2 separate regions of the Homo sapiens genome follow, and region 2 is linked to region 1. Evidence: fine-mapped expression QTL. Tissue or cell type: whole blood. Region 1 holds a variant in brackets; the other region holds the start of a gene. All regions are shown on one strand. Distances are from middle to middle.

Evidence for each region. PIP is the estimated chance that this variant, and not a neighbour inherited with it, causes the effect.
Region 2: it holds the start of CD27, and the variant in region 1 is the best candidate, but not a certain one, in a credible set for the expression of CD27 in whole blood (INTERVAL, PIP 0.72).

The regions. Positions count from the first base shown.
Region 1 is chr12:6,543,779-6,548,044 of GRCh38, forward strand. All of the region lies in intron 8 of IFFO1 (intermediate filament family orphan 1), which reads right to left. Among named protein-coding and RNA genes, the nearest start is that of IFFO1, 10 kb to the right of the region's middle. The variant G/GAA (reference allele first, on the strand shown) is at 1,920.
Region 2 is chr12:6,442,933-6,447,056 of GRCh38, forward strand. It overlaps CD27 (CD27 molecule), which reads left to right and starts at 2,023. Exons shown (of 6, transcript NM_001242.5): 1 at 2,023-2,299; 2 at 2,492-2,623. The coding sequence starts at 2,164. It overlaps CD27-AS1 (CD27 antisense RNA 1), which reads right to left. Exons shown (of 6, transcript NR_015382.2): 4 at 4,029-4,124; 5 at 614-785. RefSeq lists a silencer at 45-124 and enhancers at 1,115-1,184, 1,205-1,254, 2,159-2,660, 2,205-2,264, 2,295-2,474 and 1 more.

The DNA.
Region 1 (4,266 bases):
AACATGGAGAAACCCCATCTCTACTAAAAATACAAAATTAGCCAGGCGTGGTGGCACATGCCCGTAATCCCAGCTACTTGGGAGGCTGAGGCAGGAGAATTGCTTGAGCCCGGGAGGCGGAGGCTGCAGTGAGCCAAGATTGCGCCATTGCACTCCAGCCTGGGCAACAAGAGCAAAACTCTGTCTCTAAAAATAATAATAATAATTTTTAAAAATAGTAATAAAGTACACAATAAATGTAATGTTTGAATCATCTCAAAATCATTTCCCCCGGGTCAGTGGAAAAACTGTCTTCCACAAACCAGTCCCTGGTACCAAAAAGGTTGGGGACTGCTGCCTAAAGTCATTGCACTGGGAGAGAGGAGGAGTCAGATGATTTGAAAATACTTTTTTTTTTTTTTTTCCTGAGATGGAATCTTGCTCTGTCACCCAGGCTGTGGTGCAGTGGCACAATCTCAGCTCACTGCAGCCTCCACCTCCCAGATTCCAGCAATTCTCCTGCCTCAGCCTCCCAAGTAGCTGGGATTACAGGTGCCCACCACAATGCCTGGCTACTTTTTGTATTTTTAGTAGAGACGGGGTTTCACATGTTGGTGGCCAGGCTGGTCTCACACTCCTGACCTCAAGTGATCTGCCCGCGTTGGCCTCCCAAAGTGCTGGGATTACAGGCGAGAGCCACCACGCCCAGCCAAAAATAGCTTAAAAGGCATGATTCCATTTAAGATATTATTTTCGTTCTTTCAGATCATGTTTTACACTGGGCACTTGAGGTCCAGGGAAGACTAGGGAGAGATGGCAGCCCGAGATCTCTTCTCACGAAGATGGCCGCACAAAGGCCCCTAGTTGGTTGAAGGCACAGTGAAAACACAAACCTTAAATCCACCATCCAAAAGAGGGAGACAAGAATCAGGTCAGGCAGGAGGAGGAAACAGTGAGCCGCGGTAGACGGGAGGGTGGGGAGTACTGGTTTCCCTTGCCATGTCTTTAGCTAGCAGCACAAATCCAGGAAACCTCATCTACCTGGCCAAGAAAACCAGGTTTGATGCAGGAGCAGGACAGTTTGATGTGTGTTGGGAGAATGAGTATATAGGAAAATAATTTCTCGACTTCCTTCTCAAACACCTCCAATGTGACAGCAATAAGAATAAAGTCAAGGCCGGGCGCGGTGGCTCACGCCTGTAATCCCAGCACTTTGGAAGGCCGAGGCGGGTGGATCACGAGGTCAGGAGATCGAGACCATCCTGGCTAACATGGTGAAACCCCGTCTCTACTAAAAAATACAAAAAATTAGCCGGGCGTAGTGGCAGGCGCCTGTAGTCCCAGCTACTCTGGAGGCTGAGGCAGGAGAATGGCGTGAACCTGGGAGGTGGAGCTTGCAGTGAGCTGAGATCGCGCCACTGCACTCCAGCCTGGGCGACACAGCGAGACTACGTCTCAAAAAAATAAATAAATAAATAAATAAATGAAAAGAATAAAGTCACTCTCTCCTTATCCACTGGTTTCACTTTCCACGGCTTCAGGTACCCAAGGTGAACCTTGATCTGAAAATATTAAATGAAATATTCCAGAAATAAACAATTCCTAAGTTTTAAATTGCACGCTGTTCTGAGTGGCCTGATAAAATCTCACTCTCTCTGCCGGGCGCGGTGGCTCACGCCTATAATCCCAGCACTTTGGGAGGCCGAGGTGGGCGGATCATGAGGTCAGGAGATCGAGATCATCCTGGCTAACACGGTGAAACCCCATCTCTACTAAAAAATACAAAAGAAATTAGCCGGGCGTGATGGCGGGCGCCTGTAGTCCCAGCTACTCAGGAGGCTGAGGCAGGAGAATGGCGTGAACCCAGGAGGTGGAGCTTGCAGTGAGCCGAGTTCAAGCCACTGCACTCCAGCCTGGGTGACACAGCGAGACTCCGTCTC[G/GAA]GAAAAAAAAAAAAAAACCTCACTCTATCCAGACCAGGACATGAACCCTCCCTCTGTCCCAAGGATCCACACTGTCTATACTGCCTGCCCATTAGTTACTTAGGAGCCATCTCAGTGATGAGATTGACTGTCGTGGTATGGCAGTGCCCGTGTTCAAGGAACCCTTATTTTTACTTCATAATGGCCCCAAAGCACAAGAGTAGTGATGCTGGCAATTTGGATATGTGAAAGAGAAGCCAAAATATGCTCCCTTTAAGTGAAAAGGTAAAAGTTTTCAACTTAATAAGAAAAAGAATCCGATGCTGAGGTTGGTAAGCTCTACAGTAAGAATGAATCTTCTATCCGTGAAATTGTAAAGAAGGAAAAAGAAATTTGTGCCAGTTTTGCTGTCACACCTCGAACTGCAAAAGGTACCGCCACAGCGCACGCTAAGTGCTTAGTTAAGATAGAAAAGGCATTGAATGTGTGGGTGGGAGACATGAACAGAAACACGTTCCAGTTGACAGCAACTGGACCCAAGCTATCAGGAGGTCAGTGCTATCTTTGGTTTCAGGCATCCACTGTGGGTCTTGGAACACATGCCCTGAAGATAAGGGGGGACTACGTATGAATCTCCCATGTGGGCCTGAAGAGAGGCTGAGACGCAGAGAAGGCTCCATGCCTCTCCCAAAGTCAGAGCGTCGGGAAAGGACCACCTCACCAGGCCAGGAGAGCTCACGGGGGTCCCGTCCATCCCTCCTCCCACAGCAACAGCAACCTCCATTCTGTGGTTCCACAAATCCTTCTTCCTTTGTTTGTATTTTTGAGACGGAGTCTTGCTCTGTCGCCCAGGCTGGAGTGCAGTGGTGCGATCTCGGCTCACTGCAAGCTCCGCCTCCCGGGTTCACGCCATTCTCCTGCCTCAGCCTCCCGAGTAGCTGGGACTACAGGTGCCTGCCACCACGGCCAGCTAATTTTTTTTTTTTGTATTTTTCGTAGAGACGGGGTTTCACCGTGTTAGCCAGGATGGTCTCGATCTCCTGACCTCGTGATCTTCCCGCCTCGGCCTCCCAAAGTGCTGGGATTACAGGCGTGAGCCACCGCGCCCGGCCTCCACAAATCCTTCTTGCAGCTCCTAAAGCCTAGAGTTTGAGCTAAAGCACCAGCTCCACTTGCCTCTAGGTACCTCTAGAAGGTACTTCAAGGCTTGGGAAAAAGCATGGAGATTTCTCTGTTATCTCAAAGGCTGAGTGGAAGAAACAGGAAAGTCCCAGTCCATCTCTGAGTGCCATGGCACTGATAGTGTTAATAATAATAAAACAGTCCCCACTATGCTACACTCGCTATGAGCCAGACACTGCCCTAAGCTCTATATATGCATTATTTCATCTGATCTTCTAAACAACCCTATAGGTGAGGTATTATTAAATTCCTCATTTTACAAATAAAAAGGCCCGGCACAGTGGCTCATGCCTGTAATCCCAACACTTTGTGGGGCCGAGTTAGGAGGACTGCTTGAATCCAGAAGTTTGAGGGCAGCCTGGAAAACATAGTGACACCCTGTTCTCTGTAAAAAAAATCAAAAAATTAGCCGGGCGTGGTAGCACACGCCTGTGGTCCCAGCTACTTGGGAGGCTGAGGTAGGAGGATTGCTTGGATCCAGAAGATCACGGCTGCAGTGGGCCTGGAGTGACAGAGCAAGACCCTGTCTCAAAAAAAGAAAGAAAGAAAGAAAGAAAGAAAAAGAAACAGGTGTAGGGCTGGACACATGGCTCATGTCTCTAATTCTAGTACTTTGGGAGGCCGAGGCAGGAGGATCACTTAAGCCCAAGAGTTTAAGACCTGCCTGGGAAACACAGGGAGACACCATCTCTACAAAAAAATACAAATAAAAATTAGCTGGGTATGGTGGCACACACCTGTGGGCCCAGCTACTCAGAAGGCTGGGGTGGGAGGATCACTCCAGCCTAGGCAACAGAGTGAAACAGAGTGAGACCTTGTCTCAAAAAAGAAAGGACAGAAAGACAAGGGAGAGAGGGAGGGAGGGATAGAGGGGGAGGGGAAGAGAGAGAGAGAGAGAAAGGAAGGAAGGAAGGAAGGAAAGAAAGGAAAGGAAAGGAAAGGAAAGGAGGGGCTCAGAGGGAACAAGTAACTTATTACAAGTTCAGGGTGGTTGTAAGTAACAGAGCTGAGATTTGAACCGATATCTGTCTGTTTCCAGAGCCTGAGGTCTTCAGAGCCCACCAGGAGGACTATAGCTGAGAGATCACTCCTCCTCCCAAGACCTTGGTCTCTAGGGTCCTGCAGCAGGGATGAGGCCACTGCGCCTGCAGCCCCACTCAAAACCCTCTGGGACACCACGCCCCTG
Region 2 (4,124 bases), 100 kb before region 1:
AAAAATACAAAAATTAGCTGAGCGTGGTGGCACGCACCTGTCATCCCAGTTACTCAGGAGGCTGAGGCGTGAGAATGGCTTGAGCCTGGGAGACAGAGGTTGCAGTGAGCTGAGATTGCATCATTGCACTCTAGCCTGGGTGACAGAGTGAAATGGAGGGAGGAAAAAAAAAAAAAAGGAAGGTCCCGTCCAGGGAGCCAGCCTAGGATGGGGAAGGCTCACCAGAAGTGGATGCAAAGAGTGCTGGAGATGAGCTCATTCTATTTGCCTAGGAAAGAAAAACGTCCAGAAACCTGGCCTTCCTCCTCTTGGCCGAGGCCCTCCAGGAAAGCCAGGCAGACCCTGCTCCTGCTCTGACCCCCTGGAGAAGTGATATGTAGAAAAGAGGAGATGGGCTTTGGCCCAGAGGACAGCAGCGTTAGGCTAGTGAGCAGTTCCCAGTCGGTTCAAGGTTGCTAGGCTCAGCGAACTGCAAGTCCCTGTTCGACAAGTTTCTTCCTAAAGGTCCCCAGTTCCTCATGATTCTTCTGAGGGTCTCATCCACCCTCCCAGGGCCTGCAGTCAGCTAGCCACCCCACTGCCCCATGCCTGCAGTGAACACATTTACCACAACCTGGAAATGGCTGGTGACAGAAAAGTCCTCACGGCCACAACACTCTCTGCGGTGGGAATTCAGGTGCCTTGCCTGATGGTGACAAAGCTGGTTTTGCATAAACAGCTCTCTGAATCACACCCAAATGTGGCTTCTGACTTGAGTGGACCCCCATGAAGAGCTGCAGAGGGGGCTGGGAAAAGACAAGAGAATGGAGAAAATGAGGAGAAAGGAAACTACAGAGTGAGATAGAGAACAGATCTGACAGGTGTGACCACAGCAGTGTGACATTTATGAACAGTGTGGAAACAACGGCAAAGCCCCTAAATTAAAAACTTCCTGGGGAAATAAGCCACTCCACATATCGGTTGCTGAGGAAAGAGTGGAGGAGGCTGTTGACCCGTGTGTGTCCCCATGACTCAAAGAGGGAAAAGTCTAGCTGTTTCCAATATCCCGAAATCAGTCTTGCTGGGAGAACTGGGAAAATAAAAAAGAGATGACCCCCGTAGGAAGCTACCTTTAATCCCAAGTGCCCAAGGCTAGGAGAGAAGATGCTCCAGGCGATCCAGGACACCAGTGACTGACACAGCCAGAGGTGGGAAAGGGGAGGATAAAGATGGCACAAAAGTGAGGAGTGAGCAAGGGTCTGAGAGGGAAGGCCATGTGGGCAGTAGGTGGCACCCACATCAGAGACTGACATGAGGATTAAAGGAGAGCATAGGTGATCGGTCAGAGTGTGACAGAAGAGAGGCAGCTCTACACCCCTTGCTTGCAATTCTGAGCATTCTGTAGCAAACTCGTTTGGCCATCAAACCAGACCTCAATTGAGACAAGGCTATTTAAGCTTCCTCCCAGTTGGTGTAAATATTCAATAGTTTTGCTGCAGAAATGTTGCGTTTGATTATGAGACTACCCCAACTCCCCAAGGGTGTTTTGTGGTGCTGGTTTCTGTATAAACCTGAAAAATTCTGAATTCCAAAACTTATCTGACCCCCAAAGTTTCAGATAAGAGCTTGTGGACCTGTGCTCAATTCTGGTTCTCCTTCCTTCTTTCAACTGTTGTCTGTGAAAGGAGGGATGCAGGTATGGGAGACAGGAGTCCTGCGAATTCGTCTGTAAACTGTGGACGGGGGGGTGGGTGGGGGGGGGTAACGTGGGCACCTTTGTGCACAAGTGCATGAATAGGAGGGGTGAGCAACTGTGTGTCCATCACCTTTTTGTCAAAGAAGCAGGAGTCAGTGGGCTACGTGCTTCATGAGCAGGAGAGGCGGAAACTAAGGAAGGCTCATGTGTTGGAGGAAGCATGTTTGAAGAGCAGCAGGTCTCACAGAGTTTGCTCTTTAATACTCTCCCCAGCACACGGAAGGGGAAGGGGGTGGAGGTTGCTGCTATGAGAGAGAAAAAAAAAACAGCCACAATAGAGATTCTGCCTTCAAAGGTTGGCTTGCCACCTGAAGCAGCCACTGCCCAGGGGGTGCAAAGAAGAGACAGCAGCGCCCAGCTTGGAGGTGCTAACTCCAGAGGCCAGCATCAGCAACTGGGCACAGAAAGGAGCCGCCTGGGCAGGGACCATGGCACGGCCACATCCCTGGTGGCTGTGCGTTCTGGGGACCCTGGTGGGGCTCTCAGCTACTCCAGCCCCCAAGAGCTGCCCAGAGAGGCACTACTGGGCTCAGGGAAAGCTGTGCTGCCAGATGTGTGAGCCAGGTAAGAGGGGGCCTTGGTAAGGGCCAGGTGAGTGGCGAAAGAGAGAGGACTGGGGTTAATACAGTAAATAGGCGCAGGGTGAGACTGAGCTCAAGCAAGGAGGGAAATCCTGCAGCTGTGGGGAGGCACCACCTTGAAGAGGGCAGAGAACCAGCCCTTCTCAGGCCTTGATCCCTTACCCTCTCCTCCCAGGAACATTCCTCGTGAAGGACTGTGACCAGCATAGAAAGGCTGCTCAGTGTGATCCTTGCATACCGGGGGTCTCCTTCTCTCCTGACCACCACACCCGGCCCCACTGTGAGAGCTGTCGGCACTGTAACTCTGGTGAGGTGGGCAAGGGTGTGTAGGTGGGGACGATGGACAAGCATCTGGGGGAGCAAGGCTGGTGACGGGTTTGGGGGTGCAAGGAGGATGACGGGGCCAAAGCTTTGGCCTTCTTCAAGGCTCACAGCAAGTGGAGCCAATGCTGGGAAATGCGGCACCCTAGGTGGGGCATGAATTAACGTGGGCAGACATCTAGTATTCCAGGAAAGGGATAAATAGAATTTGAGGGATTGGTGAGAACGGGTCTATGGATAGGATCAAGACAATAAAATGAGAGAAGTGGCTCTATGACCCCAGATTTCGGGCAAGCAACCCCCAACCAATAAACTGACTGTGTTCCCAGAGTGCACATGTGCAGGTTGGCCATTGGGAATTTGGAATACATCTTTCTAAGGAAATAACAAAGCAACCCAATAGGTAACAACCTTTTTTTGCACAAAAGCCAATTTGAGAAAATGAGTATGTATGTAGCCTGTGTTTTTATTTTATAGTTCCAAAAAAAAAGGTTTTTTTTAAACTAAGAAGTATAATATCTGCAGTTGTGCTTATGAATGCTGTTATTATTTCTCCATCTTCGCTACAATTTCAGAAACTACGGCCAGTATACACTAGAATAGCAGGCTTTAAAGTGGCCCCTTTGAACAAATGTTCTCTAGCAAGACACTTTTTAGAACCAGGTAACTGTAACTATTAAACTACCTACTTGCAAAACGTGTTTGGTGTCACTGGGTCTCTTGGTACTGGGTTTTGTTTTGTTTAGTTTAGAGACAAGGTCTAGCTCTGTCACCCAGGCTGGAGTGCAGTGGTGCAATCATAGCTCCCCACAGCCTTGAACTCCTGGGCTCAAGCAATCTTCTAGTCTCAGCCTCTGAAAGTGCCAGGATTACAGGTGTGAGCTGTAGTGCCTGGTCCCGTAAAAACAAAAACAAAAACCAACACCAGATGTGGTGGCTCATGCCTATAATCCCAGCACTTGGGAGGCCAAGGCAGAAGGGTATTTGCATATTTTGTAGAGACTTGAGCCCAGGAGCTTGAGACCAGCTGGGCAACATAGTGAGACCTTGTCTCTAAAAAAATTGGCTGGTCATGGTAGTGCACCTGCAGTCCCAGCTACTTGGGAGGCTGAGATGGGAAGATCACTTGAGCCCAAGAGGTCCCCAAGAGGTCCAGGCTGCTCACATCACTGCACTCCAGCCTGGGTAACAGAGCAAAACCCTTTTTCACACACACACACACACACACACAAAAAGCCAGAGCAGTGGCTCACACTTGTAATCCCAGCACTTTAGGAGGCCAAGGCAGGCGGATCCCTTGAGCCCAGGAGTTTAAGAACACCCTGGGCAACATGGCAAAACCCTGTCTCTACTAAAAATACAAAAAGTTAGCCAGGCGTGGTGGCACGAACCTGTAGTCCCAGCTACTCAGAAGGCTGAAGTGAGAAGATCACTTGAGTCCAGGAAGTGGAGGCTGCAGTGAGCCGTGACTGTACCACTGCACTCCA